4 linked regions of the Homo sapiens genome follow. The protein of the gene in region 1 interacts with the protein of each later gene in a pairwise test. Each region holds a gene or a part of one and is shown on either strand. Other genes may lie near its edges.

Region 1 (3,500 bases):
TACAGAGCTGCTATCGAAATGCATGAAGAAACCAGAACCTGTTAAAGAAAAGCAGAATTGAGAGAAAAACAGATACTGGGTATAGGAATGTGTGTTTGTTAATGGTGGTGCTAGATTCTTTACGCGAGGCATAAGTAACATCCATATATAAATCGCCAGGGAGAAATGACAGAAGCCTAAGCTACATATCTGGCACTTGCAAAAGCTAGCAGATTGACATAACAGTATAAAACTCAAACCTCTCTATTATTTATAAAACGTTTACTTACAATAGTAGTTTTCCGTGGGCACTAATCCTTGCTTATCTTCATTTGTTATGAGCTATAAAGATAAAGCAAGTTTAAGTATCAAATGCTAACTTTTTAAAAATCCACTGTAAGGCTGCAGGTCAAGCCCAAACAGCAGGGCTAAAAGGTAGATTCTACATGGGACACCTTTCAAGTGTCCAAAACCCTGGTCCAGCTCCAAGTGGAAAGAGCTACCATTGGACAAAGATGCTACAGAGGGTTGTTCCCCCGCTGAGAATATGAAAAAGGAAAATGGAAATTAAGTCAAAACGAGGGTTTGAAACTTGGGTGGGTAGAGAGTTGTAGCATCTGTGTCTCCCAAGGGTAATTCAACGTGAACTTCTAGGTCTTTCTGGAAAGGTGAACACACACTGCGGACAGAGGTGAGAGTCCAGCCAGGAAACCAGGGCCTTGGCTGACCTGCCCGCCCCCCTTTTTTTTTTAAACACTTTCTAACTTCTTTGGCTTCAAACTGTCACAAAAAAAGAAGGAAGAAAAAAAGAAAAGGAAGAAAGAAATTCAACTTTCAGAAGATATTGTTAACTACAGCAACCATCTGGGGAGATTCACATTTTAATATTTTTAAAATGATACTTGTAATGAAAAAATTGAGAATAACTGAACCTGATAATTTCAGAGGCACCTCCCACTTATCTGCTTTCATTATCTGCAATACTTAACCTTCTAAGCCATCTCTAAAGAAGGCACAGCTAGTAATTCTGGTTTGAGTGTATATATATTTTCTTTCATTTTTTTTTTTTTTTTGAGACAACGTCTTACTCTGTTGTCCAGGCTGATACGCAATGGTATGATCTCAGCTCACTACAACCTCTGCCCCCCGGGTTCAAGTGATTCTCCTGCCTCAGTCACCCAACTAGCTGGGACTACAGACATGCACCACCACACCCAGCTAATTTTTGCATTTTTAGTAGAGACAGGGTTTCACCATGTTGGCCCAGCTGGTCTCAAACTCCCAACCTCAGGTAATCCGCCCACCTTGGCCTCCCAAAGGCCGGGGATTACAGGCATGAGCCACTGCACCCGGCCCAATTTTCTTTACCTTATTTCAAGTATTCGCTTAGTTTCCACTATATGCAGGGAATTGTGTTGGGCATTTAAATATGGTTCTAGGAGCAGGCGATTTATGAAAGAGACAACATTAGGGAACCTTTCCCTTACCACAGAAATTAGTTTTCAAAAACAGAAAAAAGTGAGAGCTACCTGGTCTGGATTCTTCTTCTTTTCCCCCTCCCTCCCTATCTACTTTCCTCTGGTCTGAGTAGGACCACTATCCACTATCCAAATATGCATTTAAAAAGAAAAATAAAAGGAAAAGCACCTTTTTGCCATTAGAGGCCTCCAATTCCTGCCTAGATCATCTGAGCTATTAAGCACTGGCCCTAAGTTCTGAAGTCTAGTTTTACATATTTGATGCCAGAATAAGCAAATACGTAAAAATTTGGTCCTTGTAGCCAAATAACTACTTAAGGCAAAACAAAATGAAAATGGAAAAGGATACGCATCTGAAGAAAATTAAATAAACTCTGCTTTTTAGATATTTTTGTAACAGGAGCATATAATCACATCCAGCTACAGTTCTGAAACAATAATTCGCAGCCTAGTGCTGTCCATTGGAAAGAGTCTCTTGTATTCTGCAAACTTCTAGGAAACAATAGTACTGCCCCTGAGATAAGAGGCCTTGCAGGAGGCCCAGTCTGGTACACTCTCCTATGGGAACGCACTGGTAGAGGCATCACAGAGCCCAGCTCTGACTTGTAGAAAGAAAAATAAACTCAGGAAGGAAAAGCAAAGAAATTAACAATGTCTTTATCAGGTGCAAGGCCTACTTCTCAGTAGTAACCTAATGAATAATCATTAATAATTCTGATAGAAATTAGAGATAAAATCCCATTCTTTCATAGAGAAGTATGTGGCTGTAGCCACTGAGTATACAGTCTAGGAATATCTCACTCCTGTTACCTTGGCACTGGCCCATGTTGGAGTGATCACTCTCTGGCCCCCTGGGAACCTGTGAAACCCGTTGCCAGTCAGCATTATCTCCTGAACTTTGGATCATGCCACACACATTTTCCAGTTCAAAACTGCACGAGTCCATAAAACTCAAGGAAGAGGCTACAAAAAGCAAAAAACAATTATTGACACTCATACAACATGATAATCTAAGTAACAAAAACTGAACTTATCACAGTATTAGAAATGCCAGGTTGGTATTACAGGGAACACCTAGCTGATTCTGGATGATGGTGGCTTAAAGATCCCTCTTTATTTGCAGAACCCCTACAAAGAAGGTAATGAATTCTGTAGATCTGAATAAGCTCCCTGCCTGAAGTCTTTTTTAAAAAAAATTTTCTAATTTGTAGAAACCTGAGTCTATACTCCCCTAGTTATTCGAATCATTAAGCCACAATCCAGATTATTTGATCCCATTCATATTACAACTAGACATATCATTTTGGCTAAAAGGAAGTGTGAGTATCAATCTGACCGAGGTTTGAATTAGTAACAGCTTTAAAAACTTGCCTGAGGCATATTCCTACAGGACCCAATTTGTTTTTAGATCTCAACACCAGACGTGGTGAAAAGAAAAATGCTGCTTCCAAGTTGTAGATTGAGATCTGAGTGCTATTCTGTTTATTTCCTGAATATCAAATCTCTATAATCGCAGAAACCCCACCAATGCTTGACAAAATGGCACAGACCATCATTTTTTCCTACATAACAGCGGAAAATATAAGTCATTTCAAAGAACCTGTCACATACAGCAGTTATACAGTTGATTCAACTTTAGGAGATCAGAGTCACTGAAATCCATTCGTTGGCCGATCACATCCTCAAAGTCTGAGATTCTTGTGACAATTGTCGGCTCTGTTCCATTTTGGAATGCAGTTTTACTGTAGTGCATTACTGAAGTGTAATCATAGGGAACATTCAGGGAATCTGATATATCGTCACTATAGGTGTTAAAATTGTGCTCTCTGCCTAAAGGATAAATAAAAAATCTTTACTTGATGTTCACAAAATTCAGCTTATCTTACTCCAAATACTGCTCACTTAGAAATGGAGAATATAATAAACTCAAGCAATTTTTGCTACAACTAACAACAGTTTCATTATTCCCATCTTACAATATAATATTCAAGCTTAGAACTGTGATACCAGCAGTCACACTGAACATATCTAAGGTTCTATTGC
Region 2 (3,500 bases), on another chromosome or scaffold:
CACATTTGTCAACTAAGGCCTTGAGCAGGGCACTCCTTTCTTGGCATGGAAACTTTCTTTGACCTTGAATGCGGGTCAGTACCTCCTCACAGAGGTACCAAGGAGAATTAATGAGAGGCTTATATGAAATTTGAGCTCCTCCAAAGCAGAATATTTTAATTCTTGGATGAATGGTATATTTTGAGATGTGATAAAAGTTTTTTAAAAGAGTTTGAAGTTCTAAGTTTTTGGAAAAGCCCTATTCAAGTCCTTCCTTTTTTTTTTTTTTTTTTTTTTTTTCAGAAACAGGGCTTGCTATGTTGCCCAGGTTGGTCTCTAACTCCTGGGTTCAAGTGATCCTCCCACCTCAACCCTGTGAGTAGCTGGGACTACAGGCGACCATGCCTGGCTATCTAAGACCTTTTTGCTGATTTGGTTTTTTTAATTTTTTTGAGACAGGTTCTGGCTCTGTTGCCTGGGCTGGAGTGCAGTGGTGTAATCGCAGCTCACTGCAACCTCCACCTCCTGGGCTCAAGCCATCCTCCCGACTCAGTCTCCTGAGTAGCTGGGACTACAGGCCTGCACCACCACACCTAGCTAATTTTTTGTGTTTTTTGTGGAGATGGAGTTTTGACATGTTGCCCAGGCTCCCCTCAAACTCCTAGGCTCAAGCAATCTGCCTGCCTCAGCCTCCCAAAGTGCTGGGATTACAGGCATGAGCTACCATGCCTGGACTTTTTGCTGGTTTTTTGTTTTGTTTGGCTTTGTTTTTTCCTGGGGTTTTATGGGCTTGGTTACTAATCAGCCTGTAATCAAGATCTGAGGCCCGGTGCGGTAATCCTAGCACTTTGGGAGGCTGAGGCAAGAGGATCGCTTGAGCCCAGGAGTTCAAGACCAGCCTGAGCAACACAGGGAGACCCCATAGCTACAAAAAATTTTTAAAAATTAGCTGGGCATGTGGTATGTGCCTGTAATCCTAGCTACTCAGGAGGCTGAGGTGGGAGGATCGCTGGAGCCCAGGAGTTTGAGGCTGCAATGAACCATGATCACGCCACCGCACTCCAGCCTGGAAGACAGAATGACATCTTGTCGCTTAAAAAAAAAAAAAATGGCTGGGCACGGTGGCCCACACCTGTAATCTCAGCACTTTGGGAGGCCGAGGTGGGTGGATTGCTTGAGGCCAGGAGTTCGAGACCAGCCTGGCCAACATGGCGAAACCCTGTCTCTACTAAAATTACAAAAACTAGCTGAGCATGGTGGCATACGCCTGTAATCCCAGCTAAGTCGGGAGGCTGAGGCACAAGAATTGCTTGAACCCAGGAGGCGGAGGTTGCAATGAGCCAAGATTGTGCCACTGCACTCCAGCCTGGGAGACAGAGGAAGACTCTGTCTGAAAAATAAAAATAAAAATTTGGAAGCCTGAGGCTAACTAAATTCCTGTTTATATTTCATATATAAATAGTAAAGCTCAGATTGTTCACTCTCTTTTTTTTCTTTCTTTTCTTTTCTTTTGAGACAGAGTCTTGCTCTGTCTCCCAGGCCGGAGTGCAATGGCACGATCTCAGCTCACTGCAACCTCTGCCTCCCAGGTTCAAACGATTCTCCTGCCTCAGCCTCCCGAGTAGCTGGGACTACAGGCATGCACTACCATGCCTGGCTAATTTTTTGTATTTTTTAGTAGAGACGGGGTTTCACCACGTTGGCCAGGCTGGTCTCGAACTCCTGACCTCAGGTGATCCACCCGCCTCAGCCTCCCAAAGTGCTGGGATTACAGACGTGAGTCACCGCGCCCAGCCTCACTCTCTTTTTTCTTTTATTCTCTGTTAACCTGGTCTTGGCTTTTTTTGGAGTGCCTGGAGTAAACCAGTAACAGAAGGCTGTGGAACTGGCAGCCTATGACCCAGCATCTTTTTTAACAGCAAGAGTATTATCAGAAAGTGTCACAGCCCTCAAAGGAGTAAGTTATTAAGCTGGTCAGAGACAAAAGGGAGTAAGATTGTTCAGTAAATTGGATGAGGAGTGAAATAGTCATCTTTTAAAATTTCCCTCACCTGTGTCAGGCCACCAGTCCTGTCACTCAATCTAGTAGGATTCGAGTGCTTGCTGATGTGCCCAGGGACACTACGTACTGAACTACAACATCCATCTTTTAGACTTCTGACATTTGTTGGCCAGGTCAAGCTCTCTCTCATGAGGGAAATTCTGACAGAAAAGGCTTTCTGTTATCTGTAGGCTTAGCTGAGTGCCATGTTTCAGGCTTCCAAGCTCCTCACGCTTGGCCAAGGCTACTAATTGGCTTGGCTATAAAATGGGAGTCAGCAATTAAACAGCAGTAGTATAAAGCAAGGGAATTGAACATAAACTGACCCTCCCACTTTACAACCAAAAATGTTCACACCATTTTGGGCACTACACAAAGGAGTCTTCAAAAGGAAGTGAGCTTGGAATGATTCCTTTATAGCTTTTAGGAGATGTATGTGGAATATTATTATTGATTTAGGCCTCCAAGTCAGATCTTGGAAACTGGGTAGGTCCTCACATCTAAAGCAAAGGAGACAAATGGTTTGAATCCAGTCTCTGTGGGCAGCAAGCTTGTGGTATGACTTTGCCAAAACAACAGATGATTTATATTTTTCTAAACTCTTTTCATTAAATGGTTTAAGGGAGAATATTGATGGTCATGGTGGGAGGAGGGTTTGATCTACCTGAATTTACTCACTGAAGAGTAAATGCCTTATTCAGAGGTTCCTATCACTAGTTTCCTGATTATTTGTACTAAAGAATCATTAGCCAGTCTCAAGAGCATTGGCTCAGAAAACATCGTAACTGAAAACTATCTAGGCATGCTTCTTATTCAGAGAAAAGTAGGGATGGGAAACAGTTGAACTACAAAGACATTTGGGGAGAGGAAGACCTGGGAAATGGTGCTAGACTTCTGCCACGTTAAACGTTTAATGCTGCACGCAGTACTTTACTGGTCAGCTTTCAGTTTCAGAATCTTAGGCAGAGTCAGTTGGGGAGAAAGTGTGTGAAGAGGGGGACATTTGTAAGAATGTGGCTATTCTGTGAGCCCTTATTGTTAAGTCGAATACTTAGTGCTTTCCTGCTGCCACTAGCTTCCTGGACACTCCAGACTTTGCCCTTCTGCCTCTTCCCCACTAACAGCCTTTCCTCCCCAACACCACCCTCTCTAAAGCCAATCTAATCTTTGATCGCAGTTTCTGCACCCTTCTGGCTCTGCTAACTTTGTTGAACTAATTTTTGGTGGCCTTTAATGTCTGGTGGTGGCTGTGTGAGAAACTAATGAGGGATAATTGTATTTACTTACTGATTATTATTTTGCTTTAGGGACAATCTGCCAGACTGGAGTGCATGGCATGATCATAGCTCAGTGCAGGCTCAAACTCCTGGGCTCAAAAGATCTTCCCACCTCAGTCTCCTGAGTAGCTAGGACTACAGGCACATATCACTGTGCCTGGTTAATTTTTTATTTATATTTCATAGAGATGGGGGTCTCACTA
Region 3 (4,164 bases), on another chromosome or scaffold:
TTAGTTACTTCTGAGAGGACAGCTTGCTGCCAGAGCTCTATTTTTTATGTTAGAGGCTCCTTCTGCCTGCAGACTCTGCTGTCTGGGAAGGGCACAGCGTTAGGAGGGAGAGGGAGGTGTGAGTCCCTCCATGGACCCGCTGCTTTGTACTTCTCTATCTCATTTCCTTTTCAGCACCACTCTGGGCAATCAGTATTCCAGCCCCATTTTATCCTCAGAAAATTGAGGCTCTGAGATGTTATCTCTGTGACCTGGGTCCTATTACGTGCCAAAGGCATCATTTAAGCCTAAGATGTCCTGGCTCCAAGGTGTCAGCATCTGGAAGACAGGCGCCCTCATCCTGCCATCCCTGCTGCGGCTTCACTGTGGGCCCAGGGGACATCTCAGCCCCGAGAAGGGTCAGCGGCCCCTCCTGGACCACCGACTCCCCGCAGAACTCCTCTGTGCCCTCTCCTCACCAGACCTTGTTCCTCCCAGTTGCTCCCACAGCCAGGGGGCAGTGAGGGCTGCTCTTCCCCCAGCCCCACTGAGGAACCCAGGAAGGTGAACGAGAGAATCAGTCCTGGTGGGGGCTGGGGAGGGCCCCAGACATGAGACCAGCTCCTCCCCCAGGGGATGTTATCAGTGGGTCCAGAGGGCAAAATAGGGAGCCTGGTGGAGGGAGGGGCAAAGGCCTCGGGCTCTGAGCGGCCTTGGCCCTTCTCCACCAACCCCTGCCCTACACTAAGGGGGAGGCAGCGGGGGGCACACAGGGTGGGGGCGGGTGGGGGGCTGCTGGGTGAGCAGCACTCGCCTGCCTGGATTGAAACCCAGAGATGGAGGTGCTGGGAGGGGCTGTGAGAGCTCAGCCCTGTAACCAGGCCTTGCCGGAGCCACTGATGCCTGGTCTTCTGTGCCTTTACTCCAAACACCCCCCAGCCCAAGCCACCCACTTGTTCTCAAGTCTGAAGAAGCCCCTCACCCCTCTACTCCAGGCTGTGTTCAGGGCTTGGGGCTGGTGGAGGGAGGGGCCTGAAATTCCAGTGTGAAAGGCTGAGATGGGCCCGAGGCCCCTGGCCTATGTCCAAGCCATTTCCCCTCTCACCAGCCTCTCCCTGGGGAGCCAGTCAGCTAGGAAGGAATGAGGGCTCCCCAGGCCCACCCCCAGTTCCTGAGCTCATCTGGGCTGCAGGGCTGGCGGGACAGCAGCGTGGACTCAGTCTCCTAGGGATTTCCCAACTCTCCCGCCCGCTTGCTGCATCTGGACACCCTGCCTCAGGCCCTCATCTCCACTGGTCAGCAGGTGACCTTTGCCCAGCGCCCTGGGTCCTCAGTGCCTGCTGCCCTGGAGATGATATAAAACAGGTCAGAACCCTCCTGCCTGTCTGCTCAGTTCATCCCTAGAGGCAGCTGCTCCAGGTAATGCCCTCTGGGGAGGGGAAAGAGGAGGGGAGGAGGATGAAGAGGGGCAAGAGGAGCTCCCTGCCCAGCCCAGCCAGCAAGCCTGGAGAAGCACTTGCTAGAGCTAAGGAAGCCTCGGAGCTGGACGGGTGCCCCCCACCCCTCATCATAACCTGAAGAACATGGAGGCCCGGGAGGGGTGTCACTTGCCCAAAGCTACACAGGGGGTGGGGCTGGAAGTGGCTCCAAGTGCAGGTTCCCCCCTCATTCTTCAGGCTTAGGGCTGGAGGAAGCCTTAGACAGCCCAGTCCTACCCCAGACAGGGAAACTGAGGCCTGGAGAGGGCCAGAAATCACCCAAAGACACACAGCATGTTGGCTGGACTGGACGGAGATCAGTCCAGACCGCAGGTGCCTTGATGTTCAGTCTGGTGGGTTTTCTGCTCCATCCCACCCACCTCCCTTTGGGCCTCGATCCCTCGCCCCTCACCAGTCCCCCTTCTGAGAGCCCGTATTAGCAGGGAGCCGGCCCCTACTCCTTCTGGCAGACCCAGCTAAGGTTCTACCTTAGGGGCCACGCCACCTCCCCAGGGAGGGGTCCAGAGGCATGGGGACCTGGGGTGCCCCTCACAGGACACTTCCTTGCAGGAACAGAGGTGCCATGCAGCCCCGGGTACTCCTTGTTGTTGCCCTCCTGGCGCTCCTGGCCTCTGCCCGTAAGCACTTGGTGGGACTGGGCTGGGGGCAGGGTGGAGGCAACTTGGGGATCCCAGTCCCAATGGGTGGTCAAGCAGGAGCCCAGGGCTCGTCCAGAGGCCGATCCACCCCACTCAGCCCTGCTCTTTCCTCAGGAGCTTCAGAGGCCGAGGATGCCTCCCTTCTCAGCTTCATGCAGGGTTACATGAAGCACGCCACCAAGACCGCCAAGGATGCACTGAGCAGCGTGCAGGAGTCCCAGGTGGCCCAGCAGGCCAGGTACACCCGCTGGCCTCCCTCCCCATCCCCCCTGCCAGCTGCCTCCATTCCCACCCGCCCCTGCCCTGGTGAGATCCCAACAATGGAATGGAGGTGCTCCAGCCTCCCCTGGGCCTGTGCCTCTTCAGCCTCCTCTTTCCTCACAGGGCCTTTGTCAGGCTGCTGCGGGAGAGATGACAGAGTTGAGACTGCATTCCTCCCAGGTCCCTCCTTTCTCCCCGGAGCAGTCCTAGGGCGTGCCGTTTTAGCCCTCATTTCCATTTTCCTTTCCTTTCCCTTTCTTTCTCTTTCTATTTCTTTCTTTCTTTCTTTCTTTCTTTCTTTCTTTCTTTCTTTCTTTCTTTCTTTCTTTCTTTCTTTCCTTTCTTTCTTTCCTTTCTTTCTTTCCTTTCTTTCTTTCTTTCCTTTCTTTCTCTTTCTTTCTTTCTTTCCTTTTTCTTTCTTTCCCTCTCTTCCTTTCTCTCTTTCTTTCTTCTTCTTTTTTTTTTAATGGAGTCTCCCTCTGTCACCTAGGCTGGAGTGCAGTGGTGCCATCTCGGCTCACTGCAACCTCCGTCTCCCGGGTTCAACCCATTCTCCTGCCTCAGCCTCCCAAGTAGCTGGGATTACAGGCACGCGCCACCACACCCAGCTAATTTTTGTATTTTTAGCAGAGATGGGGTTTCACCATGTTGGCCAGGTTGGTCTTGAATTCCTGACCTCAGGGGATCCTCCTGCCTCGGCCTCCCAAAGTGCTGGGATTACAGGCATGAGCCACTGCGCCTGGCCCCATTTTCCTTTTCTGAAGGTCTGGCTAGAGCAGTGGTCCTCAGCCTTTTTGGCACCAGGGACCAGTTTTGTGGTGGACAATTTTTCCATGGGCCAGCGGGGATGGTTTTGGGATGAAGCTGTTCCACCTCAGATCATCAGGCATTAGATTCTCATAAGGAGCCCTCCACCTAGATCCCTGGCATGTGCAGTTCACAATAGGGTTCACACTCCTATGAGAATGTAAGGCCACTTGATCTGACAGGAGGCGGAGCTCAGGCGGTATTGCTCACTCACCCACCACTCACTTCGTGCTGTGCAGCCCGGCTCCTAACAGTCCATGGACCAGTACCTATCTATGACTTGGGGGTTGGGGACCCCTGGGCTAGGGGTTTGCCTTGGGAGGCCCCACCTGACCCAATTCAAGCCCGTGAGTGCTTCTGCTTTGTTCTAAGACCTGGGGCCAGTGTGAGCAGAAGTGTGTCCTTCCTCTCCCATCCTGCCCCTGCCCATCAGTACTCTCCTCTCCCCTACTCCCTTCTCCACCTCACCCTGACTGGCATTAGCTGGCATAGCAGAGGTGTTCATAAACATTCTTAGTCCCCAGAACCGGCTTTGGGGTAGGTGTTATTTTCTCACTTTGCAGATGAGAAAATTGAGGCTCAGAGCGATTAGGTGACCTGCCCCAGATCACACAACTAATCAATCCTCCAATGACTTTCCAAATGAGAGGCTGCCTCCCTCTGTCCTACCCTGCTCAGAGCCACCAGGTTGTGCAACTCCAGGCGGTGCTGTTTGCACAGAAAACAATGACAGCCTTGACCTTTCACATCTCCCCACCCTGTCACTTTGTGCCTCAGGCCCAGGGGCATAAACATCTGAGGTGACCTGGAGATGGCAGGGTTTGACTTGTGCTGGGGTTCCTGCAAGGATATCTCTTCTCCCAGGGTGGCAGCTGTGGGGGATTCCTGCCTGAGGTCTCAGGGCTGTCGTCCAGTGAAGTTGAGAGGGTGGTGTGGTCCTGACTGGTGTCGTCCAGTGGGGACATGGGTGTGGGTCCCAT
Region 4 (2,967 bases), on another chromosome or scaffold:
TTCTGTCTGCCATACCTGTCACCTCTTGTCTATCTCCTCTGCATCAGCACTCCAAGCCTTGGCTTTATCCTGCTATATCAGTTATCACTCATTTTTCCATCTAGTTTCCATTTTCCAGAATTTTGTTAAAATTTCTGACCCTTTGATGAATTATCTTGCTGTTTTGTTATGGATTTATATGTTTTTTTTGTTTTTTTTTTTTTGAGACGGAGTGTCTCACTGTCACCAGGCTGGAGTGCAGTGGTGCGATCTCGGCTCACTGCAACCTCCGACTCCCTGGTTCAAGCGATTCTCCTGTCTCAGCCTCCCAAGTAGCTGAGATTATAGGCACGGGCCACCACGCCCAGCTAATTTTTTTGTATTTTTAGTAGAGATGGGGTTTTACCATGTTGACCAGGCTGGTCTTGATCTCCTGGCCTCATGATCCACCCACCTCGGCCTCCCAAAGTGTTGGGATTACAGGCGTGAGCCACCATGCCTGGCCTATATGTTCTTTTAATGCCTTTACCATTATTCTGTGGAGTCTTGGGAAGGAGAGGAAATAAATGCATGTTTTTATTTGCCATCTTTAATTGGACTGCTTAATGTAAAACTGTTCGTGTTATAAATTCCCCCTCATATATTTGGTTTTGTGACTGCAGTAGTGTAAATTCTCTGCCTAGAATTTTAAAGAAAGTGATTCTGTATGTGATTAGGGAGTAAGGTTCAGATAACCTTGAGTGGTTTAAAGTTTCCTACTGAGTAATCTGAACAAGGCGGATTTAAGATACTGCAGACAGAGTGTGAGAATAACTCTCTCTTCACAACTTAAGAAGCCTGGTTCCTTATTTACAACTGGGATAAGATAAATGGTTGAATACCTAGAGAAGTTCCACAAAAAGTTACACAAAAAGTTTAGTTAAATTTAAGTTAAAAGTTAGTTAAAATGAAAAGTTAAGTTTTTATTCTGCTACTAAACCATGCTCCTCTGCGTGTCTGAACCTTCAGGTTCCTCTAGATTTCTAGCACCTGAAAGAAAACAAAACTGCAGCATCAGCCAGGTAGGCCTCTCCTAATCTTACTCATTCACAGAGAATTTCCCCTTTGAGTCACCATGGCATTGGCTGGTTACTCATACCACAGATCCCTCAGGATTGGCTGGGACTGCAAATAAAATACTGTTTGCCCATAATCAAGTTGATAAGCTACAACATAAACACATCTAGGTTCTTGTTCTTAGAATACAGCATGAAGAATTTGCTTTCTTCTTTCTTCCTAACATTTTCATGTGAGATCCAGAAAGGACACATTGTCTCTGGCCATTCGAAGAAAGAAAGAAAGAAAAAAAAAAAAGGTATTTAGAGACAGAGAGAGAAAAAGGCTGAAATGGGTTCGCTGGGTTCTAAAAATCCGCAAACCAAACAAGCCCAAGTTCTTCTTTTGGGACTTGACTCAGCTGGGAAGTCTACTCTCCTTTATAAATTAAAGCTTGCTAAGGATATTACCACCATCCCTACAATAGGTTTCAATGTGGAAATGATCGAGTTGGAAAGGAATCTTTCACTCACAGTCTGGGATGTTGGAGGACAGGAAAAAATGAGAACTGTTTGGGGCTGTTACTGTGAGAACACCGATGGGCTGGTGTATGTTGTGGACAGTACAGACAAACAGCGACTGGAAGAGTCTCAGAGACAGTTTGAGCACATTTTGAAGAATGAACACATTAAAAATGTGCCTGTTGTTCTATTAGCCAACAAACAAGACATGCCTGGAGCTCTGACTGCTGAGGACATCACCAGAATGTTCAAAGTGAAGAAGCTTTGCAGTGACCGGAACTGGTATGTGCAACCCTGCTGTGCCCTCACAGGGGAGGGGCTGGCCCAGGGGTTCAGGAAATTAACTGGATTTGTGAAGAGCCACATGAAATCAAGAGGAGACACTTTGGCGTTCTTCAAGCAGAACTGAGGCTGCGAAAAATCCAAGTCTCTACAGAGACACTGATGAAGTTGAAAGGGTAATTGTTTTTCCATGCCAAATGAGGAAATCAAATTAATGAGTTGACAAACTTTTCCTGAGATGTTATTTCATCTACATTTAGTTAAACAACTTAGAATGATATCTAGAAAATATTTATTTTCAGCCAGGAACTTTAGCAAACTGTGGCAATGATCACTGGGAATGAAAACGTATAATGTTCTACAATTTTTGTTATCACATTGGATGACTTTGAATATAGTAGTGACACTTGGGACCAAATAAATTATTTTATATGACTACTAGAACAAAGTTTTAGTAAGCTGTCTGCTAATAGAGTCAGAATTCTTCCAGATTGTTTCCAGCTGTAACAGGTATTGAATTTCCACCGTGCTCCTATGTAACAGCTGGGTGGTGTAAAAAATGAACTTCAAATTATGGAGTGGAAAAAGCGTAATGTTAATATCTTGTAAATTCGTATTCCCTATTAAATAAAGCTTTCTTATTCCCTAAATAAAGCTGTTCTTCTGGATTCCTGCCAGCTTTTTGAAATCTATTGCTGGGAACTTCCTCCAATGAATCTTAAACAATGAACTTCAGGCTGCTAATTGCTCAGAGCCTGTGTTCTGCCATAGGGAGCAGAAGTGTATAAACTTAAAGGTCTGGTGATCGGGGTAGCACCTTGGAGTTTAGGGCAAGATCTGGGCTCAGGGCTTAGCTCTAGGCTACAGCCCCGAGTCTTGCTTCCTTGGAATTCAGCTTAACAGCCATTGCTTGGAAACATATGTGCAGCTCATTGTACTGATCAAACAGGAACCAGACCTAGACTTTGCTCTCAGAGACCTACAATTCACAGCAGGAAACAACATAAAGCTAGTAGCTAGAGTAGGGCAATAAGTGCTAAGTGCGATTGCAGGAGATACTCTTTTTAACCAGGGAAACAAGAAATGTTTCATGCAGGAGATGGTATTTTAGAGGGTCCCTCACTCCCAGTGACCCTACAAAGGTACAGGT

What was found. The genes of interacting proteins can lie anywhere in the genome.
Region 2: the proteins of MEP1B (region 1) and CYSTM1 interact in a protein complementation assay, tested with the Homo sapiens proteins (one study listed by IntAct).
Region 3: the proteins of MEP1B (region 1) and APOC3 interact in a protein complementation assay, tested with the Homo sapiens proteins (one study listed by IntAct).
Region 4: the proteins of MEP1B (region 1) and ARL14 interact in a protein complementation assay, tested with the Homo sapiens proteins (one study listed by IntAct).

Annotation. Positions count from the first base shown.
Region 1 is NC_000018.10:32,207,039-32,210,538, reverse strand, and holds part of MEP1B (meprin A subunit beta isoform 1 precursor), read right to left. Parts: intron 3,288-3,500; coding exon 3,069-3,287; intron 2,421-3,068; coding exon 2,268-2,420; intron 39-2,267; coding exon 1-38. UniProt on the Homo sapiens protein: Membrane metallopeptidase that sheds many membrane-bound proteins. Exhibits a strong preference for acidic amino acids at the P1' position. Known substrates include: FGF19, VGFA, IL1B, IL18, procollagen I and III, E-cadherin, KLK7, gastrin, ADAM10, tenascin-C.
Region 2 is NC_000005.10:140,178,188-140,181,687, forward strand, and holds part of CYSTM1 (cysteine-rich and transmembrane domain-containing protein 1), read left to right. Parts: intron 1-3,500.
Region 3 is NC_000011.10:116,828,543-116,832,706, forward strand, and holds the start of APOC3 (apolipoprotein C-III precursor), read left to right. Parts: upstream 1-1,364; 5' UTR 1,365-1,398; intron 1,399-2,027; 5' UTR 2,028-2,040; coding exon 2,041-2,095; intron 2,096-2,230; coding exon 2,231-2,354; intron 2,355-4,164. UniProt on the Homo sapiens protein: Component of triglyceride-rich very low density lipoproteins (VLDL) and high density lipoproteins (HDL) in plasma. Plays a multifaceted role in triglyceride homeostasis.
Region 4 is NC_000003.12:160,675,982-160,678,948, forward strand, and holds ARL14 (ADP-ribosylation factor-like protein 14), read left to right. Parts: upstream 1-1,178; 5' UTR 1,179-1,365; coding exon 1,366-1,944; 3' UTR 1,945-2,467; downstream 2,468-2,967. UniProt on the Homo sapiens protein: GTPase that recruits MYO1E to MHC class II-containing vesicles via the effector protein ARL14EP and hence controls the movement of these vesicles along the actin cytoskeleton in dendritic cells.